Homo sapiens: one gene and its partner. The protein of the gene in region 2 purifies or fractionates together with the protein of the main gene of each other region. This does not show direct contact. Each region holds a gene or a part of one and is shown on either strand. Other genes may lie near its edges.

Region 1 (17,314 bases), on a different chromosome or scaffold from region 2:
TCAGATAGCAGTCAGTCCAGAGAGGAGCAGGAGAACAGAGAGCTCCAGGAGTGACCTAAGAAAACCAGAAAAATCAGATTGCCTGAGGTGTTGTGATTGTGCTGAGATTCACACTTCTATCAGGGTCTGGGCTGAATTTGTGATAGATACATAGGAAACTGAGCAAACAAGACACTAAGACGTAGTGACTCCGGGAAAACAAAGGATTACACATAAAAGGGAAATATAAGCATAGCACATTTAAGGTAGAGGTGTAAACAATATCTCAGTAGTCTTAATCATGCAAAAGTATACTGATGTAGCCAAAAATTATAACATGACTGAGAGGGAGAGAGAAAGAAATCTATGCTTGGGATGTGGTTGGGAGAAAGATTATTAGAGCTAAATCCCTATCTCCCTTAGGAGGAAATCAATAGATAATATATAGAAGTGAAAAATCAAGAAAAAGTAATATAACCACATTATTAGGAAATGTAGATGTTAATATCAGAAGAAACAGTTCAATGTGCTAAACTGGCAACCTCTGGGAAGAGGTAGCCCAGGGCGATATGAGCCTGCTGCTTTTCACTATGAGCCTGTTATAGCTGTTTGGCTTTTTATATTATGCACACAAAATACTTTGGTATTAAAAAAAAAAAAAAAAACTGAAAACACCACAAAACCAAACCCAACAACAAAAAAACCTTGAACTTCCCCTCAAATTGCTTTCAATCCAGTAAAGGGCAGACCGTGTTAAGAGAGGTTTCGAATGCTCTGGGATGCGAGAGTGGTGGAGCACAGAGGGCTGAGCAGAGCAGCCGGGCCCACTCATGGGAGAACAGAGCATTTGGGAGTCTGAGCTTCTGGGAAACAGGAGGAAAAGTGGGGACCATGCCAGGGCCCTAGCCGTGGACTGCCAGCCCTTCCTCACACATAAGCTGGATGAATATTCTAGGGTAGTTTTCTCTTTACTAATGGAGAGTATTTTCTTTAGTGTGGAGGCACTTTTAGGACCAACAATGTGACTGCAGGGTGGGGTTAAAATATACAGCGGGTCTTGGTTTGACTTAAAAAGCTTCTTGTCTTCCCTATACATTTCTTTAACATTTTTTGAAGTGGCATAAAGGTAACATTTTTCAGAAAGTCCGTAACACTAATTTTGTGTTTCTTCAAATTTGTACTATTTTCTTCTTTGAAGTGATTTTAGCAGTCAAACATTGCTAAGAAAACAGAGGCCAAAGTTCTACTTGGAAAAAAAGAAAACTCTAGACTCTTAAGTGCAATTTCTGAAGAGTATTTTCAGTTTCTAATGGGGCATGTCACTCCCATTACTCCTTGGCAAATTATCAGGTAGCAGGTTTTGTCTTCTAATGCACTAACCAGAGATAATGGCAAATCAGTGTGGTCACTTCTTCAAAATAGCTCCTTGTGTTGCTGTTTAGAAAACTCCTTCACAGTTGGGGTTTTAACGCTTCGGGTTTTAACTCTTTAATGACCATCACCATTTTTCAGTCTCTCTTACAGAAGCTCTCCTTGGTCTGGGATGCTGACATTTGCCTCCCCTGCACCCTCTGGGAAGGCCATGGTTAAAAGGACCCCAGAGATGCAAGAATGACATGAATGCAGCCAGATGAGAGCAAGTGAGGTGGCCAGTACAGGTCAAGAATCAGAGCTCTAGCAGTTGCCATGAACGGTTGTTTATTTCCCTCTGCCCAATCCACTTCGATACACTTTGCTGCAAGTCCTTTTCCTGTTAGTAAAACAAGGTAGACTCCAATTTCCACATTCATGACTGTGTGCCCTTAGCCTCTTCATTTCTGCTGCTCTGCCATCAGCCCTTTGTGTGATAAACCTTTGCTCCCTTTGACCTTACTTCACTCTGGGTTTTCATCGTGTTTTCAAATGGCCTTTACATACATAAACAACTGCTCAACCTCATGCAAAGAACCACAAACTCAAAGTAAGACACCACGTGCATTTTACAGGTGAGGAAAGATCAAAAAGTTAGATGGCGCAAGGTGCTGGCAAAGCGTAAAGCAGCAGACCCTGCGAGGACTATGAATTGGTACCTCCTCTTTGGATGGCAATGTGGAAGCCATCTAACACAATTTAAAATGCAGGCACCCTTTGAGCCAACCACTGCTCCTCTACAAATTGATTCTGTGATATTCCTGCTCATTTGTAGGAGTGTTTGTTGTAGCGTTGTCTTTAGCAGTGAGACTAGAAACTGCTTAAACGTACCTCCATAGAGGGCTGGTTAAGTAAATTAAGGGCACATACAGAGGAAAATTATGCAGCCATAAAGAATGATGTGGGCTGGCATGAAATATCTCCAAGATAAACTTCAAAGTCCAAAAAGGAACATGCACAACAGAGCAGTTAGTGTGTGCTGTTGCATGTGTATTAGAAAACACATGGTTGGGTGCAGTGGCTCACGCCTGTAATCCCAGCACTCTAGAAGGCTGAGACAGGAGGATGGCTTGAGCCCAGGAGTTCGAGACCAGCCTGGGCAACACAGAGAGACCTCATATCTACAAAAAAATAAAAAAGATAGCCAGGCATGCTTGTGCATGCCTATGGTCCCAGATACTCAGGAGGCCGGGGTGGGAGGATTGCTTGAGGCTGGGAGGTGGAGGCTGCAGTGAGCTGTGATCACACCACTGCACTCCAGCCTGGATGACAGAGTGAGACCCTGTCTCAAAACAAAAGGAAAACACAAGGCTGTATATACACAGACATATATGTGCATAGAAGATCTCCAGAAAGAGTCAACACATGGAAAGTTCAGGATATCTCTGGAGAAAGAAAGGTTTGGGAATGGAGGAAACCTGATTTTGTATACTGTGTACCCCTTGGTCTTGTGTGAAGTCTTACCATTTGCCCACCTTACTTTTCCAAAAGAAGTTAAAATTGTTTTCATTAACGTTTTAACAAGGTAACACTGTAAGATGGAGAACTGTCAACCACTACTTAAAAGACAGAATCCACCCACCTTTCAAAGCTGGAAGCAATTTACACAGGTGGGTACCTTTGTAAATCACTGATGACACACACTTCCCCCAATAGGAAAACACTGACATGCAAGCTGGTCCCTGTGCTTAAGCTCTCTGGGCAAAAGTTTCCTCATCAGTAAAATGAAGACGTTGACCTAAGTGATCTCTTAGATCTGTTTTCTGGTGCAAAAGGTCTCTGATTTTAATTTAAACCAATTTCATGTTCCTACAAAGCAGTGAGAGTCGAGCAACGGGCTCTAGTCCACACTCCAAAGCCTATCTCAATGGAATTAAGCCATCCATTCAAAATAATTTTACACTGAAGCATCCTTTAAATATATTCAGAGCACAGAATTTATTGAACATAATATGGAGACAGCTAGTACAAAAGTTTATGCCTTGGCAGGGCAGGTTTCATCAGGCTGATAATGGAACATGGGAGAACATGCTGTAAATGGCTCTTTTGGTCTGGACCCTGCAGAAATACATCTCCTTCTCTCTGGGAAACATCATGTCAGCTGCCAAGCCATGAATTTATTACATATCAGAAAACCAAAATGTGCAACAGTAAAGAGTCCTTTCCTGCACCAACTTTTTAAATTACTTCCATGTCAAAACAGCAAATACAATGAAAAATACATAAAGGACAAATTATGAAAACTAAAGCATTCTAAGACATCTCTTAAGATACTCAGTTCCTAACATGTTAACATACATTGAAGACTATAAACACACACATCAGAAACTGTGGGAATCTTTTTTCAACATAGGGAGAAAGACGTAGAATAGGGAGAGAACAGCATGGGTTACTGAAACCATTTATTCAGAAAGCAGAGGAAAGGCGAAAGGAACACTGAAATAGATCATTTTTAGTTTCTTATAGGAAGTTCCAAATGGCAGCAGTTGATAAATCGTCTTTAAAAAGGAAACGACAGCAACAGAAATGAGAACCAAATATATTTTGCATTTTTCTCTCGGTGTATCATCTTGAGTCACCTTACTTAGGCTACACACGAATGAAAAATATAAAAAGCCACGCCCACTAATTTCGCAGCACCTCATATAGTAGCAAACAGACAGAGGGTACTTACGAAACGTTTGCTAAGGAGTGAATGATGAAAAGCAAAAAGTAGTTCTTGTACACATGGTCTCAATATCACAGACAATAAATTCTGACCTTTGAATTCACATAAAAGATGCAATGGAAAAACATTTTAACATGGATACTGTACTAGAGGATTAACAGCTGAATTCAGTCTATTTCTTAAAAACAAAAGAAAGACGGGAATGCAGGCAGCCAGTTCGGAGAAACAGCCAGGACTTTTTTGTATGACATGGAAAAACCGGCAAGTCAACGTGTGAAACGTGCACACTCATTTCTCATCTTCTTAAACCCTAAAAAGCCCCGCAATCTTGTTAGCACTAAGCCTGGATGAAATTGTGTTAAGATATCTGATTAGTCTCCCTTAGTTGGCATTTTCCAAAGGGAAAAAAAAAGGGAACCTGTTTTATTTCAGTCAGACATGGCTTTGGGTATCAGTGAAACGAAGCTCTGACAGCAGCTCCACCTGCAGAAGGCCAGGCGCACTCCTGCAGCTCATCAGAATGCAAGCAGGAAAGCAGGCCAGCAAGCGAGCATCTGTCCTGCACCCACATCCATTAGCCAAGTGATTACATCTCCATCAGCCCTGGGGTGTAATAAAGCAATTGTAATCGGGCATTGTTACAGGATCAATGTTTCCTGGTTTAAAAATAAACATCAGCATTTATCTAGCAGCAGAAAGCGATTCTCCCACAGTACTGTTTTATTCAACTGACATCTTTTAATCAAAGCAATCCATATCGTGGCAACATTCCAAGGTATCATAACTGCAAATATTTATGGCAAGTTAGATAATGGCTACATTTTTGTTGCTACACTTTTCTTCCTTTTCTACGGATTTAACACAGACATTTTCTAATAAACTAATTCCATTAAGAAAAAAAAATCTCAAGTAATTATATTCATGAAGACAACCTCTCATCCACCTCCACCCGTTTCTCTTTTAACTATCATCCATAACTGTTTATGTGAGTTCATGTCTTTTAAATTTTTCAAAATATCTCTGTAATGAAAATAAAAAGCCCCTATTGTTAAGTGCCGTAGATACAGCCAAAAACATGGCATGGAGGGAGGTCAGGGCCCCCTGGCACAGGGGTGGGTGAGCTTGTGCAGCTCAGCTAATGTTCTAGGCTGTGGCTAATGGGATTCAGAGGCTGGAGGAAGAGGTCTGTGAAGCTGGGGGCAGACCCATTCCCACAGCCTCCCAAGCTTGCCTGTCGGCTGACGCTCCTTATCAGGGGCTTCTATTACTTGCCCTCTTTGCTGATATCCTGGAGAACCGCAGTGCTAATTCAGGGAAAGGCCTGAGACATCAGCAGCTCAGCTGTTTTCAAACCTCAGCAGGGCCCTTCTGTAATACCAATTTTAATCAACTGCCCTCATTCACATTTAATTTACAAGTCATGTAAAGCCTCCATATAAAGCGCTCCCATCATCTCCTTGCCGAGACGGACTGGCAATATTCTTTCTAAAGCCCCCAAAGTCATTCTCCAGGAGCATCAGCAGAGATCTTCAGGCAATGAGAAAATGGAATATGTACCTTTTTTCACTGTCTGTAGTGTGTTCAGTTTCCAACAGAAAAAGAAAAAGCATCTGAACTACAGTCTTAATTCTACTTACTTTAGTGTGAAAATAACTGAATAAGGTACGGAGGCAGACACAAAAGATGTACAGACGGGCAGAGTAGCTGAGGCAGGAAGGCCTCATCCACTCACTTCCCTGAAGCAGATTTTCAGAGCTGAAATGGTATCTTAGCAATGTAGGCCTTACAGAGACTGATTTAGTTCTAAAAAGTTGCCCGATTTAACCTCCTGGAGCCTTTATTTCTTCGTATGCAAACAGAGCCATCTACCCCCCAGTCACAGTTGCAAGGATTAAGTTCAATGAGCGAATGTATTGGAAATGTTCTATACAGGTAAGGAGTGGCATTGAAACAACAGTAACTTTCTTGAAAAGGTTCCTATCAGAGCAGATCTGTCTGAGGAAAAGGGGCCAGGGAAGGCGTTCTCCAAATCCAATTAGGCCACAGAAACTCAATTCGCGTAGGGCCAGCATGATCTCAGAGCTGCTCTTGGTGTTCCAGAAGAGTGGTCGTTGGCCTTATGGGATTTGTATGTCATGAACTAGAGTCATCCATCTATATACTTTGCAGGGGCCTTTCTAAATACAATTCCATTCCAGCTCATCTTTGAGAACACTCCTTCTCAACAACAGCAAACATGGCCCCAAGTGTTAATTAAGAGAGGTCTCCTCAGAGTGGTAACTTTTCATAGTTCAGTTTGGTTCTTTCTCCTTCTTCAGGCCAGACAGCCGGGGGCAGGGAAAGCCACGAGAGGCCCTTCAATGAAATGCCATCTCCAGCAGGGGGAAGCAGTGGCCTCTACACCGAGAAGGTCTCAGGAGTTAAATGTTATTCAGGTGTTCAAAGTGACACTGGGAAGCCCAAGACCCCTATCTCTTCATACATGTATTTCTCAAACTACAATGAGAAATGGGCCATTCCTTTAGAGAAGGAGCTGAAAATGACATATAACATTGTATTTTGGCATGGATTCTGAGTTTGCAAACACAAAAATTTGTGTATGCAAAAAAATATAGGCACGATTTGAAAACTGTCAAGCTACTGACATACGGCACATATGCCACACATGCACACATGCACACATGCACACACACACAGAGTCTGTTTTCAAATTCATCTGAAAGGCTCTGTAGCTCTGAGCTCTCACTACATTCAGTTCTATCTGACTCAACATAGCCTGCAAACTGGGCAATGATATCTTTCGATAGCAATTCTGTTCCTGGGATTTGTTTGAAAGCGTTTAGGTTTTCACGGATCACTGGAGGTTCTTCATTTTTCCCCCTTCTGTGTTATGGAGGTATAAGTCGTCTCTCTAGCCATAAACTGGCCACTGGTAAAAATCAATTTTGATTTTATCAGTATGTATTACTGCTGGTGCCAGCAGTTCAGAAGACGAGAGAAGGAAAACATGCAAACTAGGAGGAGAAAAAAGTTAAAGCCAGTTCCTCACACCTACAAATAAAAAAGCCTGCTGTCTTTAAGAGGTATTTTGTATCGTGCCAAGGAAGCTTAAGTTACCAATTTAAAACTTCAATCAATAAAAACTTTCAGGATTCTGTCACCGCTTCCATCTCTTCTGCATTTGTGAGCACTATGGCTGGCATTTCTGAAGCCAGGGCCGCCCTCTCTGAGGTGCTGTGGAGCCAGTAACCACAGGAGCAGACTGGAGGGCAGCCTGGCAGCAGCTCCCCCATGCACACTGCCCAGCGGCATCCTCCCTAGGCTCGCTCTTTCCATGCCAGTTTCGTCCCGATTATCTGACTCTTAACCCTCTTGGGGCAGGGCAGGCCGTTGTGACAGGCCCCATATTCACCTCCTCTTTGCCTTATTCTTTTTTTCATTATGTAATTCTAGGGAAAACACCCTAAATGTGCATGCATCTCCAAGTCCTCCAGGAGCCACGCGTGCTCCACATTCTTTCTTTTCCTGGCACATTTTTGGCTGCCAGGATGACTGAGAAAATAATCAACCTTCCCATCAGTCACCTGTTTCTCTTCCTGAGCAGTTTCCTTCTGCCACTCAGTCAAAAGGCCCACAAACATGTTCACCAAGTCCTAACCTCTAGAAGGGAGAGAGACTTCAGAGACTGATTTTTAGCTGCAACCAAAATGTCCACATCCTCTGAGAAGCTGAACACCTTCTCCTAGATGTACACAAAACTCTAAATCACCTTCAAAGGTCTAAAACAGAGTAGTTTCTCAGATATTCTTTTTAAGAACTGTTACAGACTCACAAGCCAAATCCCATGACCCGGCTGTTTTTGTGAATAAAGTTTTATCAAAACACACGGCCATATCCTTTAAAAATAAATAGAGCCCTGCTCTAGTGTAATGGGACTGTACTGTACCCCTAGGCACTGTTGGGGACCACCTAAGCACTCTCCTATCAAAGACATGAGGGCCTGGAAGCTACAGGACTTAACTGGCTGCAGCAACTACAATTAGTAAATTTTAGTCCCCTCACGGAAAGTCAGGTGGCAGAAGGCACATGCCTTACAGCTCGGTCTTTTCACTCCCTTTTATAAGTACTGGGGGACACATGGGAAAAATCCTGGAGACGAATTCCTATTGGGGTGGCCTCCCTGTCTGCACACTCAACACAATCCATGGGTGCCTGGGTAACAACTAAGTCTGTTCACCATTTCTGTGAGTACCTGGGATTCAAAGTCAACTTTTTTCATGAAGACAGGAAGTTACTTACTCAGACCAACCATAGACTTCCACTTCTCCAGTTTCAAGGCCCCTGACCCAGCTTGACAGAGCCAGGCTTAGGAGCAACGTGGCTCAACGTATGTGACTTCTAAGGACTGCCTTCCTTCTGATGAACTTGTCCTCTCAAACCTGTGCACAGTGGGACTGTGCCCAGAACGCCCGTTACTAGTCTCAATGGCATGGTTCCCTGACCTAGAAGGGAGGCTGCTTTTTACTGAAGGCCAAAGCAATGGAAGGCCAAGGGTGACCAGGTGCTCAGCTTTTTCAGCAGTTTCATTTTTCATACTGTCAGCTGAAGACAACCAAAAAAAAAATACACACACACACACACACACACACACACACACACACAGAGTTAAATCATGAAACACGTATTTCTCAGTGATAGGGCTCATTTTAAAGTTAACCTTCCAATGGCAAAATAATAAAAATGATAAAATAATAATTCCCCCCATAGAGCAAATGTGACAAAATGACAAAAGAATTCTTAATTTTGGGGCTTTATTATAATTTTTCTTTTCAAGATGCTACATAGTCAAACAGAACTGGGTTGGTCTTTTATGGCATAAAATTAATTCACAGTCAAACTCTCAACTAGTACTAGAAGGATTCGCTGAAGAGTTTCTCTCTTCCCTTGCTCCCCACCCACAACTGCTGGTGCCCTCGCTTCTAACCCTCTGCAGCCCGATCCATTTGTCCTGACTCCAGGCTAGGTCCCCAAGGGGAGGTCAGGCTCAGACTTGGACCTGGGCGCTGGAAGTGTGAGTAATGGTTGAGAGGTGGTATAAGAACAATCTAGAAGACTGACTACTCTTCATTAAAAAAGGTAACCTAGAGTTGACTGTCACTACTGAGAATTTCCCTCCCTATGACAGTTGTTATTTACTGACCCAGAAAAAACACTTCCTGGCAGCTCTTCTCCAGCATCCCAATAAACCCCACCTCCACATGACCAGACTCTCCAGAGACAGAGGAGCCCACAGCCCTCCAGCAGCAATACCAGTTCACCCAACAGAGTTCAGCAGCACGCAGCATTAACTGTACTCTTGTGACAATAAGAAAACATGAGATGAAATACATTAAATAAGTTAAATATGCATTAAACATCTCTGAATAACAGTTTGACTTCACTACATGAACCAATACAAATTTAGCTTGGTCCCTTTAAGTGAACAAAGCACTGCCATTTATTTCCAAAGCGCTGGGTCAATCAGTCAACACACGCCTCTCACTTATGACGAGTACGTCTGATGCTGCCACAGTGCAATTCCTTTGGGCTTCTGACTCTGTTCATCAGTCCCAAGGAGCTGATGGCTTGGACAGAACTGAAGACACGGAAAGCAGCCTGGGCCGGGAGTGGGCCACGTGGGGACTACTGTGTGGAGCTGACCGCACTCCCCAGCATGCTGGGCTCCAGCTCCCCAAGGGCCAGCACCAACAGGCGAGGAAGGGTGTCATTTTAAGAGAGGTAATCCAGCATCATGTACCAAGGCCTACCAATGTTTAAAATGACATTTACAATATGCCATTGTGGCATTACTCATGGTTTCCCTTGTCATTAATAAAGATCATTCTTTTCCCCCTCAATCAGTTACTATACATTTTTAACTTTCTAAAAGATCGTTACATTATATTTGTGTGTGTGTATCTGTGTATGTGTGTGCAGGGAGGGGTAATTTAAAGGCAAGACCTGTGAGATGTCATCATACATTAATTTCTTTTTACACATGGTTATGATAAATTTAAATCCCATGATATGGTGGATCCACCAATCCAATTTACCATCCTGTGCATGCTACCTCTACAAGGCAATCTTCCCAATAATTACACCAACGATAAAGAACAAAACCACCAGAGCCAAGAGCCGGGTGCTAAGGCCTTCTTCCTTCCCAGTTGGGGCTAATGCTGAAATGGGGCTGTTGCTCTGCACTGTCTTCCTCATCCGCAGTCCATCTTCTTCCTACGGGAGCAAACGCACATTTCAAAGACAAGCCAAGGCACCAGAAAGGGGAGTCAACTGTACAGCTTAACGGGATGGGCTGTTTATGCCCAGTGTTGGATGACATGATATGGTCCAACCGCATTTTGCAAACGGAGAAACTGCAGGCTACAGAGGGGAAAGGGCTAGCCTGAAGCCACTGAGAAAACAGTCCCCTCTTTTCTTTCATCCATTCCACTTGCTGCTGCTAGTTACAACAGACATCTAAACAGGGTGCTCCTTGGTTTCCCGTGATTTACAGAAAAAAGCACTTAAAAGGGTCAACTGGGCCCTTTGCACCCTCGGCCCCACCCACCTCTATGGCCATGTCTTCCGGATGCTTCTCTTCAACCCCAACCTCTCTGTCCTTCCTGCCTCTAATGAATAGCCTTCCTTGATCAAATCATCGATTTTTAAAATCACAGGCATTTCCCAAGACATAAATATATAAATAAAAGAATCTACAAAGTCAACTGGGCACGGTGGCTCATGCTTGTAATCCCTGTACTTTGGGAGGCTGAGGCGGGTGGATCACCTGAGCTCAGGAGTTCAAGACTACCCCTTGGTCAACATGGTAAAACCTCGTCTCTACTAAAATTACAAAAATTAGCCTGGGGTGACAGAGTGAGACTCCATATTAAAAAAAAAAAAAAAAAAAAACCTAAAAGTGGGACATCTGGAAGCTTTCAAATGCAGAGCTCTGTAGATAGCTGGTACTTAATGAGTTACATCCAGACTGCTGGATCAAATGATATTTGGAATATTAAAATGTGACTGGCCTTCATACACTCATCTCAAATATTTTCTACTTAATGCATAGATTTCTCATTGAAGAAGCAACATTCTTTTTCATACATATAAAGATATTTGACCATATTCCCCACCCTCCCCTTGTCCCCAAACTACATGGAAATGTAAGAAATGAAAAATTTTTTCTTCCTTCACCTCCACTGCCACAACTGCCTTGCACTTTCCTAAGAATCTGCAAGTTACTATGTAGATCTATGATGCCATTTCCATGCTCTCAAAGCCAAGCCCACATCCCTGAAGAGGGACATGCATCAAGCCATTCTATTCTGGCACAGACTCATCTTTGCTGATAGATCTCTTGCTAATTACCTCATCTCCTCATCCTTAAACCCCACACACCAGCTGTACTTTCTTTTCTTCGTTTCCTTCCATTCGCTCCCATCCGCCCGAGTACCTAGTAGGTCCTGGGGACCACAGGCAGATGAGTCCCATGGAGCTGACTCTCCCTGCAATTTGTTGCTATCTCTGTGGGACATTGATCACACTGGCTTGTAATCACTTCTGTCTATGTCTCTCCCTGCTATCCCAACAACAGAGAGCTCCTCAAGGGCAGGGGCTGTTCGTGTTTGAATCCACAGTGCCGGGCACATATTAGACCCTCAGTAAATTTGTTGGCCAGATGACAGAATAAACCAACACAAAACAAGAAGGCAGTGTTTGGCAGGATAAAGAATCTTCTAATGTTGAGATTGGTCTGATCATATTTTAAGGATATTCTGCTCATGGGGCATGGCCCGTATCACTGCACAGTGATAAACAACTGGTGGTGTCCGACTGGCTTAAAAAAAAACCCGGCAAACTAAACCATTTATTTTATTAGGTTATATAGAAGCTATTTCTACCTATTTACCACTTTAAATAGCACAGAACTCTGTTTCAGAAGAGAAATACACTCGAGAAGCTTCAGGCATAGCTTAGATTTTTAGCCAAAAAGTAGTGTCAGCTTCACAATTTACTACACACTAAAGAAATTACTGACTGAGGCAAATCAAAATCACTGCAAAGGAAGAAGATGATGCCATTTCCCAAATGCTGTCAGTTCTCCTATATCTACCTCACTGTCAGAGTAAAAGAGAAGAAAACTCATACTTTTAAAGCTGGAAGGGGCCTTAGAGGTGTTTAGCAAACAGAGGCCTAAGAGATGCTGTGACCAGCACAGATTCAGAGCTGTTTCATATTGGATGGGAGCAACTTCCACACCACCACAAGCCAAAAGAAGCACCCCCTGCCTCCCCACTTCATCACTCAGTACAATACAACCTTCCATTGCCAATGCCAACTGCCTCATCCAGAAGCTAGAAGCTCAGATTTTCCTTCCATAATCTCCACCTCCTACCCACTGTGAGGCACCCCACCTCCAAGCTCATCACCACATCAATAGTTTGATGAGCCACAACTGCCCAGACCTATTTAGAGTCTTCTAAAATCAGAACTATACTTGCATTAAAACAGAGTATAGGTCAGTATTCACTCTCTGAAAAAAGATTCTCACCCAAGTGGTTTAAAAATGCATATTCAAAATAAAAACTATTTTGGTCTCAACATTTATTTTCAATTTACAATAATGGAGAGTTTGAGTTGTTTGGGGTTTTGTTTATTTTGTTTTTGAGACGAAGTCTAGCTCTGTCACCCAGGCTGGAGGGCAGTGGCACGATCTCAGCTCACTGCAACCTCCGCCTCCTGGGTTCAAGCGATTCTCCTGCCTCAGCCTCCCGAGTGGCTGGAATTACAGGCACCTGCCACCACACCCAACTAATTTTTTGTATTTTTTATTAGAGACGGGGTTTCACTTTGTTGGCCAGGCTGGTCTTGAACGCTTGACCTTGTGATCGGCCCGCCTTGGCCTCCCAAAGTGCTGGGATTACAGGCGTGAGCCACCGCACCCGGCCAAGTTTTTTGTTTTTGTTTTTTTTTTTAAGGGGACAAGAGCTTCAACAGTTGAGAAATTTCTGATCAAGGGACAGTGGTTCTTAATTTAGGCAGATCCAAGGACCCTTTTGAGACTCTCATGAAAGCCATGGAAATTTCTCCCTGGGGAGAAAAAAATAGCCAAATACCAAAAGCAAAAAGAAATCTATATATTCACTGGCTCATCAACTTCCCCACCCAAGAAGCTAGTGAAAACGCCCTTGTTTTCTGTAGATTACCAGAAAATAAACTATTACCTTGAACTGCTTGTTCTCCTCCCGTAGCCTCTGAACTTCACCTTGCAGCCTCTTACATTCTTCCATAACCTTCTTAACTTCGGTGTCATCCAAAGAAGAACTCAGAGACTTAGACACTATTGGTGTTTCTGTCTTTGATGCAGTTGTGGATATAATTTTATTTATTTCTACATCATGCTGTTCAAAAACAAATGAAAGCCTAAGTGTCACCGACCATGTAATAATGGACTTTTTTATGCAAAGTAAAGTAGTTCTCAGCAAACACCAAACGTGGTAGCATTTCATCCACACTGTAAAATGTCACATTTATTTTAAAAATGGATTACTTTATCTGATATCTTAATAATCTAAAGCAACAGGGCCCTAGAAATTATGGATAAGGGCAAATAATGAAGTTCGGCTGAGACTAATACTTCAAAGAAAGAGAAAAAGGGCTGTGTATATTGCACTATCAAATTCCTGCCACGGAAAAATCAGCATACTGTAATTGTGCAAGCTCAGGAATTATTAGCCACAAATTACTGTCACCACAAAGATGTGAACATCCCTAGGATTGCCTTAGTGGGGTTAGGAGGCTTGGGAGAGCATTAGACAGAGGGCGAATTACTTTACCAACTTAGCATTTGGAAGCTGGGATGAAGGTGAAACAAACTCAGTGTCTGCAATGTTTCAATCTTGGGAAGTTACATACTCCCCTTATTTCCCCTGCCAAGATTCAGCTATGATCCCCTCTTGAGATTTACAGGGGATGAGAGCCAGTCAGTGGAGGGAGGGCATGGAAGCACGCAGCTTGTCAGGGAAAGAGTAACTGACGATCATTGGCCTGGAATCTAGCTCTACCCATCATTTTCCAGATGAGAAGAGTAGGCCCTGTGAAGCAAGGCCCCAGGCTACCAAGTCAACCTATCACAGAGCTGAGGCCAGAATACTGCTTTCACAGCTTCCAAACTGACCTTCCTGTGACAGGATGTACACTGGGAAGAGGGAAAAAATGACCACTATCCACTTAAAGAAACAGGGTAATGATAGTGGTAAATGATTCAGCAGAAATAAAATCTCAGGTAGTTTTGACACAAATCAACAGCACTCGCGCAGACCAACATAGATACTGTTAACACAACATTTCAGGGTACTTCTGTTTCCCAACTCCAGCTATTAATGGCTAGGATAGTTTCACATGCTGCATGCTTTCACAGTTTTGGTGTTTTTATAAAAATTAAAATGTTTTCGACTAGGTTGAAGGGAAGTCCAAATTAGCATTTCAGATACAGTCTCCTTTCTTCAACTGGTCACAAGTGAGGATCATGAAAGGTAAAGCGCTCACAGTGGACAGCCTAGAGGATGGGGCTCCTTCCTTCTCCCCACAGGCAACACCGGAATGGGATCACTCTCAATGGGGGTTGATATTGCCCTCCAGGACACATGTGGCAATATCTGGAGACATTTTTAGTTGTCACAACTGGGAAGTACTACCAGTATCAAGAGGGCAGAAGCCAGGGATGCTGCTATTAATAAAACACCCTACAGTACACAGGGCAACCTCCACCACCACCAAGGATTTGCCCCAAATATCAACAGTGTTGAGGCTGAGAAATCCTCATCTAAAAGCAGCCTTTGATTGAAGAGGTAGATAGGGTAAAAGGGGTAGGGAGGCTGACAGGGCACTTTGTAAAACAAGAGAACTTGAAAGCTTCCCACACGTCCATCAACCACCATGATAAAGGGCAAATTGTTCCCTCTTTCACTCTCACCCACTGTTTAACAGCAACCTATACCTTTGCCAGGCCACAGAAGCTCTTCAGGATTTATGACATCTCAATGGCCATCGGGCTGCACTTTTCAAGGGGAAACACTGTCAATCAGTTGTCTTTCCGTGAGTTTTTCAAAGGCTGATTTCATAAAGGCCCACTTATTTGCTGACTTCAGCTTATTTTTTTTCTTCAGACATCAGATAAAGGAAAATAATTTGCCAACTTAAATCTTGGTTTTGCAGGAAATGGTATGCAAATAAGTATCAGCTTACAACATTCAATTATTGTTAACTATAAATATACTTACTGGTTTATCATTCTCTGCTGGCAATTCAAACACACATCTAAGTTTTGAATCCATAAGGTCTTCCGGTTTTGCCTCCTTCCACTAAAACAATTTAAATTTAATAATCAAGATATTATAAACCTGCTGGAAGAATAACTTTCTTCCTATAACTGACAATTTCAGAAAAATACTCTTAATGAGAAAGCCCTGATGTATATCAAATAAAGAACTGAAGTCTGCTGAGATTTCAATATTTGTAACATGACAAGATTAAATACACTCACTTTCTCAAAATATTACACTTCATAAACCCTGAAGTCTTGCTGCCTGACTCCTCAAAGTCAACCAATGCTCCCCATGTTGCTACTCTGTGGGACAGGCCCACCACTGAACAAAAAGGAATCCTCTAAACAATGTCTGGATGACCAGGTAACCTTGGCTCTCCTTATGAAAATAAAACTTGTTTTCAGCTGGGCATGGTGGCTTATGCCTGTAATCCCAGCACTTTGGGAGGCTGAGGTGGAGGGACTGGTTGAGCCCAGCAGTTTGAGACCAGTCTGCACAACGTAAGGAGACGTCATCTCTACAAAAAAATTAAAAAATTAGCTAAGCATGGAGGCACATGCCTGTGGTCCCAGCTACTCAGGAGGCTGAGGAGGGAGGATCACTTGGGCCCAGGAGGTGGAGGCTGCAGTGAGCCATGATCATGCCACTGTACTCCAGGCTGGGGGACACTGAGAGACTCTGTCTCAAAAATAATAAATTAAATTAAAATGAGAAAATGAAACTTATTTTAAAGGCATATCTAGAAAGTATAAGCGCATACTATCTGGGACTAGTTTCAGAACCACTCTGCCAACTACCAACGGAACACATTCATTACCAAATCCCTCCTCTGTCACTGTGGCAGTGTGTGGGCTGTGTCTACCCCAAGACCCATCTCCATCCCTCCAGGCTGTAGTGAGAGCACCTTCCTAGCTAAATCCCATGTCCTAAGAGGATACGCTCCTGATTACTTCTCCTTTTGGCAGCAGAAGATGGGAATTCCAGGGTATTCTAGGATTACAGACCAGGATAGCAGCAAGGTTATGATATAGAAAAAGAAGGCACCCCCACCCTCCATGCCCTCAACCCTTCCCAAAACCATGCAAGAGGCAGCTACTGTAACACAGGTACCAAGAACCAAAAGTGGGAAGCAATCTATACATCTGACCCTAGGGGACTGCCACAAAAATTATGGCAGATCCACTAAACGGAACAGCATGCTGCCACTCAAATGATGCTGAAGAGCACTCAGTTAGATGGAGAAAATGTCCAGAATGTTAAGTGAAAAAATCGCAAAGAATACTGAAGTCTGCTCCTCTGCACACACACACCTGTACACGTGTGCCTACCACATAAGTCAAAAAAAATATCAAGCAAGGATCATCACTGAATGCTAAAAGCACCAGGTGAAAGACTGCTGGCGAGCAGGATATTCACATGGTCTCAAAGTATCAGATGACTCAGAGTATCACAGATTACCTATTAACCACAGGGGCAAATGTGCTTTGTGCTATGACAGTGGAGAGAGCTGGCAGTCACCATCTTAACCAAGTGATCAAACAGCATCACCAACAGCGGAACAACCTGGTATGAAATACCAACTATGGAATATTCTTGCCAAAACACATTTAACTTGAATTTAATCATGAGGAAATAATCAAATAAATCCAGAATACAGGACATTCTGTAAGTCAACTGGCCTGGACTCTTAAAAAAAAAAAGAAGTTCAAAGTTTGGGCAGGGTGCAGTGGCTCACACCTGTAATCCCAGCACTTCGAGAGGCAGAGGCAGGAGGATCACTTGAGCCCAGAAGTTCAAGACCAGCCTGGGCAACATAGTGAGACCCCAACTCTATAAAAAAATAAAAAAATAGCCGGCATGGTGGCATGCCTGTAGTTTTAGTTACTCGAAC
Region 2 (15,448 bases):
CATTTTAAATGACTCTTTCTGATGGATAATTTAAAGAAGCTCCCATTCCTCAGATAAAAATTTTTTTTCCTTTCCTGGAGGGAGGCACAGAAAGTATGACAGCTGAGATAAAATGACTGTGGAGTAAAGGGAAAAGGGTTTAATAATCTGGAGGTGAGGGAGGGCAGGGGTAGAAGGTTGTTTTAATAAACAGGAAGTGAGGGGGATAATTCCTACTGCACAGTAGGCTCTCTACAAATAAATAAATGAAAAAAATGAATAAAACGAACAAAAAGAAGTAGTTGAGATGATGAAGAATCTTTTATGACATGGCCCCAAAAGTAGAGAGAAAAAATTAATATTTTATTTGCTACCCTGTAAACATATCTTAAACACATCTGTTCTATGGAAAAATGCAATTGAAATTCTCAACAACCATTTTTACAAAGTTTTAGAAAATGACTCATCCATAAAACTTGCCAATTTATATGAAATTCATTAGAAGGAAAAATCAAATCACTAAATCAAAAACCTAAAGGGAAAAATGACTAAATAAAGAAAAAAAAGTACAGAAAATGGTTAATTATAAAACTAAATGCAGAAAAATTAAACTACAGTTATTTTAAAAGGTACAAGACCATCCAGAAGACTTTCCATCTTCTGTATAATGCTTTTAAAAATGCCACCATCACCATATTTTAACAAAATTCCCAGGTAAGTAAATGTGGTCTGTTTACACTGCATATCTTATACAAAGGGAACATGACAAGTTCAAGGGGTTAATCGTGTATTCTGGGGAGTCAATCAACAAACATGTACTAAGCATATACCAGGCAATGTGTTGTGTATGTAATAAATGAATTATCAAATTAACTGTTATTACTAATGATACCAAATTACACCCTCTGTATGCCAGACCATAAAAAAGGTTAAGAGTCACAGCAATAGAGATGTAACTGCCAAAATCTCCCGTAAATGATTATGGCTTTGTTAACTTATTTTTTGTGAAAAATCTTTTTTGTTGCATTCATTATAACAAAATGTGATCCCTACCCAGCCAAGTGGTAAAATTTAAGTTAGCACGTCGTGTAATGAAAATGAGTATTAATTTATGAAAAACTCTCATAGCAGATTGATGTTTGTTGTTTAGAATTACAGAGAAATTTCATTACATCAAACAGTGTCTAAAATAAGCATGGATTGTTTTGTTTTGTTTTGTTTTTTGAGATGGAGTCTCACTCTGTCACCGAGGCAGGAGTACAGTGGCGTGATCTCAGCTCACTGCAACCTCTGCCTCCCCGGTTCAAATGATTCTCCTGCCTCAGTCTCCCAAGTAGTTGGGATTACAGGTGCCTGCCACCACACCTGGCTAATTTTTGTATTTTTAGTAGAGACAGGGTTTCACCATGTTGGCCAGGCTGGTCTTGACCTCCTGAACTCAGGTGATCTGCCCACCTCAGCCTCCCAAAGTGATGGGATTACAGGCGTGAGCCACGGCGCCCAGCCTCTTTTTTTTTTTTTAAGAAAAATTTTTATAGTCTACTTCCTTTAGTGGCATATACCTTAAACCAAATTTAAGTTCAAAGTGAAATTCATAATGCATATTGAAAATTTCACTTATCACAAATTTAGTTATTGTGCTGTAACTAAATGGCAAGCAAATCATTAAAAATATATAAAAGAATTAGGAAATAATAGAACTAAAAATGTCTAAAAAGATACTTAATTCTTATCTATCTCAGAATTAAACTTGAGCTTTTTCAGCCAGAATATATTACATAAAGCTTTCCCCCAGCTAGGTGCTATGCTTTTAACTGATAGGTGCTCTAAGAAACAATCGTTTTTATTGCAATAGAGTGTTAAATAATTCTATGTTTATATTCTACTCTACTTAAGCAAGTATCATTTTACTGACTCTAGTAAATACTTGTAAGAGAGGCCAGGCTCAGTGGATCACACCTGTAATCCTAGCATTTTGGGAGGCTGAGGCGGGAGAATCACTTGAACCCAGGAATTCAAGACTAGCCTGGGCAACATAGTGAGACCTTATTTCTACAGAAAAAAAAATTATTTAACCAATTAGCTGGGCATGGTGGCATGTACCTGTAGTCCCAGCTACTCAGGAGGCTGAGGTGGAAGGATAACCTGAGCCCAGGAGGTTGAGGCTCCATCCAGTGAGCCAAGATGGTGCCACCGCACTCTAGCGTGGGTAACAGCAAGACCCTCTCTCAAAAATAATAACAGCAATTAAGACAGAAAGGCAAAAACAATAAATAATGACTAACAGTAACTGAGACAGCACAATGCCACAAAGCAAATAAGCAACAGAACTAGGATTCCAACACAAGCTGTACCACTTTGAAGTGCATACTCTTCATCACCTATGTGTGCTATTCTGCCTCTTAAAGATATCTCCTGCCATTTTTATATTACAATAAAAATGTTGACAACAATAACAGCAAGATTCCCAAAACTTCCAATTTGAATGAATCAGAGATATAACAAAACACCTATTTTTTTTCTTCTACATAATATCCAAAGAAGCTATAGACACTATGGTTACGATTTAAAGGAAAAATAAAAATGAAGAGGAAAAAAAACAAACTACAAACCTTATCTTACATGTCCCATTCCAAACAAGGTTGTGAGTAGCTCAATGTTGCTTCTGTTTTTATTTACTGAATTTCAAAAACACTGCATTCCCATCAGTGACTGATCCTCAACCTTCTTTAGTTTCCAAAAACTTCAGCTTTGATAAAACATATACTCCTCCACTTTAATACTCCATAAAAAAACTAAATGTTCTGAGATAATGCAAATAAAGGAATCTAAACTGTTTATATAAAGTTTATATAAGTCCCAAATTTGACTTATTGTTATAACTTAGTTTGGGAAGTTTCTAATTGAGAAAATTTATAATTCAAATTCATTTTAAATTTGCCATATGAACTTTAAGTACTGAAGTGTCATTCCCATCTACTGAGTGGGTATGAAAAATGTGAACTCATTTCAACATCATTGTAGTCATTATTATTCTATTAATACTCTCAAGCTAATTCTTCTTCCATGAATTTTTCAGGGAGATACGAGTCAGTCACTGACTAAACAGTTATATTACTGGATCATGACATACCTAAACTTAACATTTCATTAAAAGTACTTAAAATTTTTGCTAGCTAAATAGAATCATAAAATTACAAGGCTAAAAGGAACTTAAAAGGTCATTTCTTTACTTCCCTTGCCTTCAAGGATCATACTCATACCACCAAGATTTTTATCTATTTTATAAAGCCCCAGACAACAGAATCCCAAAATCTGCCTTAGAAACCTATGTTAATACTCACTGGAAGTAATTTTACACACACTTAAATTTCTGAAACCAAAAAGGACAGAGTAAAATAGAAAGAACATGGGTTCTGAAGGCAAGACCTAGGTTTAATCCCGCTTATACCAAAACTACTGGCAAAATGACACTGGGAAAATTACAGTACCACATGAACTCAAAGCCTTATTTCTCCTCCATAAAATAGGGTTATAACTAACTGTTGAAGTCTGTTTAAGGATTAAGTTAACAGACACAGTCCCAACTATAGTGCATGATACCAATACCATAGCTGGTGCTCAATAATTGCCATTTCCTTCCCTTTTAAAATCATTTCCCAGCACTTTGGGTTCTGGTAATGGCAAAGCAGCTTTGTCAGATAAACTTTCCTATAAAATCTGGACAAAAACACCATTTTTCAATGCTCTGGAGAGAGACCAAATGCAGGCAGAAGCTGGGAAGAGTTTACCCATTGAGAAAAAGAAAGTGTATCTGACAACAGGCACTTGTTTATACCTTTTTGTCTAAGAGCAATTCTCAAACTTTCTGGACTCAGACACCCTTACACTCTTAAAAATTACTGGCGGGGTGCAGTAGCTCACGCCTGTAATCCCAGCACTTTGGGAGACTGAGGCAGGCAGATCACAAGGTCAAGAGATTGAGACCATTCTGGCCAACATGGTGAAACCTCATCTCTACTAAAAATACAAAAAAAAATTAGCTGGGCATGGTGGCGCACACCTGTAGTCCCAGCTACTGAGGAGGCTGAGGCAGGAGAATCACTCGAACCTGGGAGGCAAAGGTTGCAGTGAGCCGAGATCGCGCAACTGCACTCCAGCCTGGTGACAGAGTGAGACTCCGTCTCAAAAAAAAAAAAAAAAAAAAAATTAGTGAAGATCCCGTATTAGAAATTTTAAGAGATCCTTTCATAGTTCGAAAGCGTGACGTTTAAGTTTTCACGCATACATATGAGATATGCCTCCCTCAAACATTGTCACAACATTGGTACATTACCATCTGACATGAAAACACAAAAAAATTGAAAAGGAAAAAATTGTAATTTATTAATTCATTACAAATAATGATGAACTTTTTATATTTTAACATATAAGTTCTAATGACATTTTCTGGAACAAAAATATTAATGAGAAGAGTAACCCTGTTCTACCTTTTTGCAAATCTGTTTAATGTATAGCTTTTAAAAAGTTAACTATATTCTCATATCTGCTTCTGCAATGAATCACTGCAATCCATTGTTCTAGTTGAAGTATATGAAGAAAATTTGGCCTCAAGTACACACGTACCTAACTGGAAAAGGCAGGGACCCTGATCACCCCTTGCAAAGTTCTCAGAGACAGACAACGGTCCTCAGATCACACACTGAGAATTGCTGATCTAAGGGGGCTCTAATCTGTGTACAACTCGGGAAGCAGAAAGATATAGCTTTACTGAATTTAGGTGACACCGGACAAAGTTTGAGGGTGACAGGACAGTTCTAACATTGAGGTGTAAATTCTGGAAGGGAAGAAGCCAAAAGGGGGTAAGTCCCCCAAATTTATATATAAACTGTCCCAAACCTTGGCTATCTGCTAAACCATGCATGTGCAGAGGAGATTCTAGGGTACGATGACAAAGAAAAAGCTGGAAAGAAAAGATTTCAGCTGCTGCCATCACTGAAAAGAGAATGCAGTTTTAATCTAGCCAAGCAAACCACTCTCTACAACCAAAAAAAAAAAAAATACTCTTCAGAGGAACACAACATAAATGTTATAAATTTTATGAATGAAAATTTATGCTTACATTATAAATAAAATGTAGACTACATTTCGTCTCTACATTTCATAATGTAAGCATGAAACTTTAAAATTACTGGATACACATATCAAAAAAAAAAAAAAACAAAACACCTCAGGAAAAAAACAAAACGAAACAGGAAAATGTGATCTATACTCAAAAAAAAAAACATAATCAACAGAAACCAACCCCAAAAAGACCTAGTCATGCAACTGGCATTAGACTAGCTATAATAAATACACTCAAGGACTAAAGCTATAATAAATACACTCAAGTTTCAAACAAACTTAGAGATAAGTAATCTCAGAGAATTGGAAGTTTTTCATAAGAATCAAATGAAAATTCTAAACCTAAAAAGTACAATAACTGAATTGAAAAATACAGCAGGTAGGCTTAACAGCAAGTTGGAAACAAAAGAAGAAAGAAAAAATGAACTCGAAATCAAGAAAAATTATTCAACCTAAGGAACAGAGAGAAAAAAGACTGACAGCAGAACCTCAGAGACCCACCTGTGGGTCAGGATCAACAAGTCAAATGTTAAGTATAGCTTAAGTCACAGAAAAAGAGTAGAGAATGGGGCAAAAAAATTTTGAAGATATAATGACCTAACACACCCCAAATGTGGTGAAAAACAAAAATTTATCCAATATCAATATAAACCCTATGCAGCAAAAATACAAAGAAAACGTATCTGTGCACATCATAGTCAGATGGCTGAAATAAAATTTTTTTAAATAAAAAAATCTCAAAAGCAGCCAGAGAAAAACAACAAAGTCAAACAAAAATATGAATATATCTACCTTCTCCTTAGAAACTCCAGAGAACAGAAGACAATGGAACTACATCTTTATAGAAGTGGAAAAAAATAAGCATCAAGCCAGCACTCTTCAGCAAAACTATCCTTCAAAAATACGGCAAAATCTTTCAGGAAAACAAAAACAAAATTTGTAGCCAGCCAAAAGTATGGCAGTTCCCCAGAAAGTTAAAAATAGCACCATCAAATAATTCAGCAATTCCACTTCTGGGTATAAACCTAAAAGAACTGAAAGCAGGAACCTGACAGATATTTGTACATTCACGTTCATAGCAGCATTATTTATAATAGCTAAAAGGTAGAAGCGACCCAAGTGTCCATCAACAGATGAACAGATAAACAAAATGTGATATATACATACAATATTAATATTCAGCATTAAAAACGAAGAAAATTCTGACATGTGCTATAACCCTGGATGAACCTTGAAGACATTATGCTATGTGAAATAAGCCAGACACACACACAAAAAAACAAATACTGTATGATTCCATTTATATCAGGTACCTAGGATGGTCAAATTCATGGACAGAAAGTAGAAGAGTGGTTACCAGGGGACTGAGGGTGGGGAAAGAGTTCTTGTTTAATGGGTAGTTTCAGTTTGAGCTGATGAAAAAAGTTCTGGATGTGGATGGTAGTAATGATTGCACAATAATGTGAAAGTACTAAATGCCACTAAATTTTACACTTAAAAATCGTTAAAATGGTAAATCTTACATTTTACAACAAAAAAATTTTTAATCAACATAATTTACCATATTCAGAAAATAAAAAAGAAAAACTATATGATTATCTCAATAGATGCTAAATAAGATTTTACTAACTTGACTACTCATTTACAATAAAAACAAAAAACGTTCAGCAAACTAAAAAAATAATTTACTCAGTCTTATGGACACCTATTAAAAAACCTACAGTTAACTTAAGTTTTGAAGCATTGAACATTTCCCCCCACTTCACATTTAAAGAGGGCAAGGATGTCTACTTGCAGCAGTTCTACTCAACATGTCACTGAAGGTCTGGGATAGTACAATAACAGTCATAAAGGTATAAAAATTGGAAAGAAAGTAAAACTGTCCCTATTTGTGTGCAACATAATTATTAATGTAGAAAAATGCAGAACAATTAAATGATCACGATTAATAAGTGCGTTTAGCCAGGCGTTATGACACAAAGTTAACATACAAAATTTTACCATGTATCTATGTACTAGCAGTGAACAACTGGAAAACAAAACTAAAAAACAATTCCATTTATTTTTGCATCATACAACATAAAATCCTTAGTAATAAATTTAACAAAGGATATACAAGACCTCTACCAAAACTACAAAATGTTGCTGAGGAAAATTAAAGATGACCTAAATAAATGGAGAGATGTGCCATGTTCATGACTAGAACTTTCAAAACTGTTAAAATGTCTCCAAAGTGATCTACAAATTCAACCCAACCCCAATTACAGTCTCAGCATAATCATACTCCTTTTTATAGTAATTAGCAAGCCTATTCTAAAATTCATAATTGAAACACAAAAGATCTAAAATCTTGGGAAAACAACAAAAATGGAGAATTTACATTAACATCAGGATTTACTAAAAATCCATTCAATGGTTCTCAGCTGGGGCCAATTTTGCCCCTCAGCGGGCATTTGGCAATATCTGGATACAATTTTGGTTGTCACAACTGGAAACATGTTACTGGCATCTGGCAGGTAGAAACCAAAGATACTATTAAATATTTGACAATGCATAAGACAGCCTCACAACAATGTGGCCCAAAATGTCAATAGTGCCAAGGTTAGGAAACCTGAAACTACAGTAATCAAGACAATATACGACGGGCGCAGTGCCTCATGCCCGTAATCCCAGCACTTTGGGAAGCCGAGGCGGGCGGATCAGCTGAGGTCAAGAGTTCAAGACCAGCCTGGCCAACATGGTGGCAGGAGGCTGCAGTGAGCCAAGATCAAGCACTCCAGCCTGGGTGACAGAGTGAGACTCTGTCTCAAAAAAAAAAGAAAAAGACAATATGGTATTGACATAAGGATAGTCAAATAGACTAATGAAACAGAATACAGACTCCAGAAGTAGACCACTTAGGTCAACTACTCAATAAAGGTGACAAAGCAACTCAATGGAAAAAGTGTTTTCCAAAGTAGGTTCTAGAACAACAGGATATCCATACACAAAAAAAAGGAAGAAGAAACTTGATCCCTACTTCCCTCCATATAGTAGCTCAAAATAAATCATAGACCTTAACAAAGGTTAAATGATAAATTGGTAAACCCTCTAGAAAAATGCATTAAAAACATCTTCACAACCTAGCAAAACTACTGAGAAAAGACTTAAAAGCAGAATATATATATACCAAAAAAAAACTAAAAGAACTCCTACAACTCAATAAAAACAAAATCCAATTTTTAAAATGGATAAAGAACTTGAAAAGACATTTCACAAAGGAAGATAAACAAATGGCTAATAAATGCATGAAAATTCAAAGTGGTCAATATTAATATCATCACAGAAATACAGACTAAAACCAAAATGAGAAATATAAATTAAAAGCACAAACTACATACCCATTAAGATGACTAAAATATACATGACTGCAAACAACTGATTGTTGGTGAGAATGTATAGCAACACAACCTCCCATGTATTGATGGTGGGCAGGTAAAACAGTACAAAAAGCTCTAGCTGTTTCTTATAAAGTTGCACCTATCCTATTACCCAGTGATTCCAATCCTAGGTATTTACTCAAGAGAAATAAAAACATATGCCCACAAAAGGCCTCATACAATAATGTTCTGCTTTATTCCTAATAGTACGTATGTGGACAAGTGAAAGAAACCATGTATATTCATAAAACAGATCACTTACTACACAGCAATAAAGAGAAATGAAATTCTGGTATGTACAACAACCTAGATGAATCTCAAAAACATTATCGTGAGTAAAGGATGTCAAGGACATTTATGGTCACCTAAATGTAAAGTTCTAAAGCAGGTGACAGTAATTTATGTTTATTTAAAAAAAAAAAAAAAAAAAGGCTGGGCCCAGTGGTTCACACTTGTAATCCCAGCACTTTGGGAGGCCCAGGCAAGCAGATTGCTTTAGGCCAGGAATTGGAGACCAGCCTGGCCAACGTGGTGAAAATACAAAATACTAGAAACACAAAAATAGCCAGGCAAGGTGGCATATGCCTGTCGTCTCAGCTTCTTGGGAGGCTAAGGCATATGACTTGCTTGAACCCGGGAGGCAGAGGTTGCAATGAGCCAAGATCACACCAATGCACTCCAGCCTGGGCAACAGAGCAAGACTCTGTCTCAAATAATAATAATAATAACAATAATAATAATAGCAGATGACTGGAGGGCATGGGAATTAACTAGAAAGGGTCACTAAGGATCTTCCTGGGGTAACAGAGATGACCTCTATCTTGACAGGAGTGTAAGTTATACCCATGTGAACATTTGTCAAAATCAAGCAGTTGGCCAGGCGCGGTGGCTCACACCTGTAATCCCAGCACTTTGGGAGGCCGAGGCGGGCAGATCACAAGGTCAGGAGATCGAGACCATCCTGGCTAACACAGTGAAACCCCGTCTCTACTAAAAAATACAAAAAATTAGCCAGGTGTGGTGGCGGGTGCCTGTAGTCGCAGCCACTTGGGAGGCTGAGGCAGGAGAATCTCTTGAACCCGGGAGGTGGAGGTTGCGGTGAGCTGAGATCATGTCACTGCACTTCAGCCTGGGCAACAGAGCGAGACTCGGTCTCAAAAAAAAAAAAAAAAAAAAATCAAGCAGTTAAGTTTTGTCCATTACAATGTATATAAATCTTACCCAAAAAAAAACTATTAAAAAAATCTAGTGGAGGTAGGGGAGTAAACAGAGGTACCACTCAAACAAGAAATGGCAAAGTATTAATTGTTGACATTAAGTGATGGGTACATGGGAGTTCATTATACTATTCTGTTTACTTCATATATGTTTGAAATTTTCCATAATTAAAGGTTTTTAATAAATAATTTCCCTTAATTCCCCCTCAGTGGAGGAGAAAATTAATAATCACTGTCCTTCATATAAGTTAAAATCTTCAAAGGAAGTCTCTAAACTTTGTTTTCTACACCAAACAATCCCTGTCCTCTACACTTTCTTCATATTCATCATAGTTACAGCTCACCTTGAAATCTGCCCATATTTTCTGTATCTTATTTATGTACTACTATCTAGTAGGGAGAAACAGACTGGAGCTATGACTTCATTAGCCTCTACTACATGCCTGGCAGTATGCTACCTACTTTAAATAACTACCCACTTAAATCCCAAAACTGAATTTAGCATCTAAAACTTTAACCCTTAGAGTGACTTTAGTTAACACTAATTGACTGTACATTTCAAAATAGCTAAAAGAGAGTAACTTGCATGTTCTTAGCATAAAGATAAATATTTAAGGGTTCCCAAGTACCCTGATTTGATTATATGCATGTATCAAATTATCACATGTACCCCAAAATATGTACATCTATCATATATCAATTTAAAAAATAATAATAAAATAAAATTTTAATGTTTCTTTACTGATCACCCTCACTAGAATTTATGTTCAATGGCAACACTGATCTTATCTTGTTCACAATTTCTTCACATCAGGCACATAGCAGGTACTCAGTAAATACATGTAAATCAAAGAATGAAAGAATATCAGAGCTCATAAGTACCCGGTTTAGCTCTCTTCTTAGTAGTGTAAATCATTTCCTATTCTAGCTATATCCAGCTTATTTTGCCTCTAATCTTATTGGCATCTATATCAATTGTTATGTATTTGTTTCAAGTGGAGTAGAATGACCCGTGTTTGAAAGCGTCACATTTTCTTTATTCACACATGTAGTGTAGTAAATCAATGTATATATTGCCAAGAGTCTTTGAATGATGTATTTTTTATATGTGGTCTTACTTTTTCTGTTCATATTGATACAAATAAGGAGATTTTTTTTCCTTAAGAGACAGGGTCTCACCATGTTGCCTGGCTTCCTAATGCATTTTGACAGTCTCTTTTTTGATAGTATCACCATCACAAAGCTGAAAACCCCTAGCAAATATTGAGAACTCAAAGTTCCTAACACAGGGTAAATTATAATTAAATTACTATTGAATTAATAATTACTGAGTTAATAAGTTATCACTGAGTTAGTAATATTGAGTTGTAATAAAACCAACCATAAATTTTATTTCAAAAGAATTTATCTAACAAACTAAGCATCTACATAAACTTAAAATCAAATTGTTAGATCCCTTCACAGTGAATCCAGGTTTGTTCTCAGAGTACATTCTTCAGTAAACATTTGGGGTGTGGTTTATGAATAAAACTACCAATACTTTAGATTAGAATTTGATTTCTACCTCAATTTCAAAGAGTAATTTTTTCATTCTTAAATAAAATCCTTAAAACATCCATAAGTTAAAAAGCTTAAAAGGGAAGGGGGATGTTATTAGTGATATTATAAAATACAAAAACTGAGTGAAATAGTTGTTAACTACAGTAAGTCAATGGTAAGTACTAGAATTTTCCTCATTAGTAAGCAAAATATGCTACCAAAGAAGATGGTCACTGCAATGTTTCTCTGACCAAATAAAAAACTTTTAAAAACATGTTTTAACATTCCAAGGGAGAAGGCAAAAGAGAAGCAAACTTCACTCACAAAGAATCACTCACAAAGAATGACATTTTATATATATATATATACACACACACATATATATAACTTTATTAAACATTTCACAAATGTCTTACATATATCATTTGCCACAGATTTAAATCCAAATTCTTCCAAATGCTATTTGATGTTTATAGATTATACGTAACTTTAAAAAACATTTAATTCAAATGTGCCAAATGCAGCAAAGGGCTGGAAAATAGAGGTTTCAAAGTAAATAGTCATTTAGAGACACCAGCAAATAGATCTGACCTTTTCGAGTGGCTTTCCCAAAGAGTTTCCAATCAGTTTCCAGTCATTCAAGACTTCTTCAACTTTGGAAATAAACCTAGGAAGTAGGGAGAAAGCTTCTAAATACAACAGCACACCTTTTTTCCTATTATTATGTAATTTCTTTAAAAAGGTATTTTTTATATTTTAACAATTTGACCAGAGAGGACTCAGTACATTTAGTATTGCTAGCTTAATTTATGGATATGGGGTAAGAGAAATAATCTTCTTTCATTCAAGAATTCTTAGGTTTTGATTCATTTATATCTATTGCTTACCCAACAAAAGCATTCTGCCTTCTATAAAATGTAAATTAAGAATTGATGAATCTCTAATAAAACGAATAAAACAAATTTGGGGCACAAATAAAAACTGACAGACTAAAATGATACTATTAAAGATAATTATGGGCTGGGTGCAGTGGCTCATGCCTGTAATTCCAGCCCTTTGAATTCCTAACCCTGAGGTTGGGAGTTCAAGACCAGCCCAGCACAAATACAAAAAAAATTAGCCCGGTGTGGTGGCACACATCTGTAATCCCAGCTACGCAGGAGGCTGAGGCACAAAAATCACATAGAAGCGGACGTTGCAGTGAGCGGACATCGCGCCACTGCACGCCAGCCTGGGCGACAGAGTGAGATTCCATCTCAAAAATAAATAAATAAATAAAATTATGAAACCAATCATCTCTCTCCTACCCACAATAACTGACCTATTTAAATAAACTTTTCCTTTAAATATATTAGGAATTCCGATTTACCCCCCCAGCCCCCAACAAAAAAAGAAAATATTATTTGGTAACTTGGTTCATGAAACTAAAACAAGTTTTAATGGACAGCTGACAAGAAATTGCAAGTAAATATGTCAACTTTAAGTATAAGTGACAGGTCTTAAAACTAGTCACCAATCTTTAAATCCAATGGTCAAGAAGGCCTATTAAAAAGAGAACTGAATTTTGAGTAGCAACATGCTCAACATCAGTAAATGAAAACTGTCAAGTCTCAGTCAAAGACATTTTCAGAAGAATTATTCTTACTCTAAGTTGACTTCTTATATAAGCTAAGTATGATGCAATCTAACAGCAACATTGCTCTCTAAACACCTGGAAGTACTGCTAGAGTACTAGAGTTAATTCTAGTCAAACTGTATGGAAAGGCAACAGATTTTTTCCTTCAGTGACATTATGAACTAATATGAACTAATAATTATGTTTTAAGATAGTAATAATAAATCTATGATTCATCTGAGGCTTCTTACTAATTCCTCTTTAAAATTAAATGCAGTATCAATTCATACACTAATTCATGGGGGAGGTCAGTCAAATGACAATTACTAGGTTTGAAAATCAGTGCTCTAGAAACAAGTTTACATGTTTACCAAAGAGGAAAAATTTAATATATCCACAGGCAAGCAAAAATTTGCATGAAATGTATACTATATTTACGAAGCTAAAAAAACTGGAAGTTACCTTAATGCCCAACTGCAGGAAATACTTGTAAATTAATCCACTCAGAGGACTAATATGCACCCAATAAAAATCATGTCAATCAAAAGAAAATATACAAAGGCCAGGCACAGCGGCTCACGCGTGTAATCCCAGCACTTTGGGAGCTGAGGCGGGTGGATCACGAGGTCAGGAGTTCAAGACCAGTTTGTCCAAGATGGTGAAACCCCGTCTCTACTGAAAATACAACAAAAATTAGCCAGGCGCGGTGGCAGGCACCTGTAATCCCAGCTACTCAGGAGGCTGATGCAGGAGAATTGGTTGAACCCAGGTGGCAGAGGTTGCAGTGAGCCAAGACTGCACCACTGCACCCCAGCCTGGGCAACAGAGTGAGACTCTGTCTCAAAATAAAAAAGAAAAGAAAAAGAAAAAGAAATATTAATATTTGATCCAAAAAAGTTTTTAACACACGTTAGAAGGAAATATGTCGGCCGGGCGTGGTGGCTCATGCCTGTAATCCCAGCACTTTGGGAGGCCGAGGCGGGCGGATCATGAGGTCAGGAGATCGAGACCATCCTGGCTAACACAGTGAAACCCCGCCACTACTAAAAATACAAAAAATTAGCCGGGCGTGGTGGCGGGCACCTGTAGTCCCAGCTACTTGGGAGGCTGAGGCAGGAGAATGGCGTAAACCTGGGAGGCAGAGCTTGCAGTGAGCCGAGATCGCGCCACTGCACTCCAGCCTGGGCGACAGAGCGAGACTCCGTCTCAAAAAAAGAAAAAAAAAGGAAATATGTCAAAAAATTAACAGCAGTTATTTCCTGGTGTTAAGTTTACAGGTGATTTTTATTTTTTATTCTACTATAAGGTATTACTATTATAGTGAAAACTATTTAAAATATAGTTTTTACAGTAAAAGAAGAAATGTCTTTTTTTTTTTTTTTTTGAGACAGGGTCTCAACTCTGTCACCCAGGCTGGAATGCAGTGGTGTAATCACAGCTCACTGCAGTTCTGTCCTCCAGGACTCAAGCAATCCTCCCATCTCAGCCTCCTGACTAGCTGGGACTACAGGTGCACATCACCATGCCCAGCTAGCTTTTGTATTTTTAGTAGAGACAAGGTTTCGCCATGCTGCCCCAGCTCCTCTTGAACTCCTGAGCTCAAGTGATCTGCCTGCCTCAGCCTCTCTAAGTGCTGGGATTACAGGCATGAGCCACCATGCCCGGCCAGGAATGTCTTAAAATACTTATTGTATGAATAATGAATTCTATCAGTACTAGCTAAGAGACTTGGACTTTATCCTACAAGTATTGAGATTTGACTAGAAAAACTAAGTAATTTTTTCCTTAAAAGCTCTCAGGAAATGAAGGGTCATTTCCTGATTCCTTATTCTATATTAGGTCCCTCTGTTATAGGCTCTTATAAGACCAGGTTTCTTTCCCTTTCTAGCTCTTACATAAACTCATAATTACAGACTTGTATTACTTGATTTGTGTCTGTAATGCACTAGACTGCACATTTAGTAAAAGCAGAAACCGTACCTGTTTTACTAACCACCACATCCCTAAATCCGTAATGTGCACTGTGCTTGACATATGGGGATTCAATAAATATTGTCAATGAACAAATGATAAAAAGAGTTATGGGCTTCTATACAGTTCTCTCAATAAATTATCTATATAGTTCATAACATATTGTACTCACAAGATCTTTCATTTAAAATTAAACTCAAGGTTTGAGACTTCAAAGTCTTAACATTTTCTCTCATGAATTGTAAAATGCACACTACAGTGTAAAAGCCAAAAACCAAATTTTCTACTTTGCAATAGTTCTTATAACGGTGTTAATAATTATTTCCATATGCAAAGCTAAAGGACTTAATATTCCACTTCAGGATATTTTTAACTAGGGGAAAGTGATCATTTTTCCATTCAAAACTGATGTTTCCCTACCCCACCCTCCAAGATTTGAATTACATTTTTCTAACTACCTTCAAGACATCAAATTATTTCAAAATCAACAGGTTCAAATCTTCTCACTTTGACACTTCCTTACATTCATTCTTACAGGCAAAAAACTACAGTTCACATTTGATTTTTCCCACTTTTAACGTATC

The links.
Region 1: the proteins of RAB3GAP1 (region 2) and VAPB purify together in Homo sapiens (affinity purification with mass spectrometry; 6 studies listed by BioGRID and IntAct, with this or other methods). This does not show direct contact.

What each region holds. Positions count from the first base shown.
Region 1 is NC_000020.11:58,437,090-58,454,403, reverse strand, and holds the end of VAPB (vesicle-associated membrane protein-associated protein B/C), read right to left. Parts: intron 15,460-17,314; coding exon 15,379-15,459; intron 15,259-15,378; exon of another isoform or gene 15,096-15,258; intron 13,498-15,095; coding exon 13,321-13,497; exon of another isoform or gene 13,320-13,320; intron 10,328-13,319; coding exon 10,169-10,327; 3' UTR 3,303-10,168; downstream 1-3,302. UniProt on the Homo sapiens protein: Endoplasmic reticulum (ER)-anchored protein that mediates the formation of contact sites between the ER and endosomes via interaction with FFAT motif-containing proteins such as STARD3 or WDR44.
Region 2 is NC_000002.12:135,054,508-135,069,955, reverse strand, and holds part of RAB3GAP1 (rab3 GTPase-activating protein catalytic subunit), read right to left. Parts: intron 11,946-15,448; coding exon 11,870-11,945; intron 4,325-11,869; exon of another isoform or gene 4,222-4,324; intron 1-4,221. UniProt on the Homo sapiens protein: Catalytic subunit of the Rab3 GTPase-activating (Rab3GAP) complex composed of RAB3GAP1 and RAB3GAP2, which has GTPase-activating protein (GAP) activity towards various Rab3 subfamily members (RAB3A, RAB3B, RAB3C and RAB3D), RAB5A and RAB43, and guanine nucleotide exchange factor (GEF) activity towards RAB18.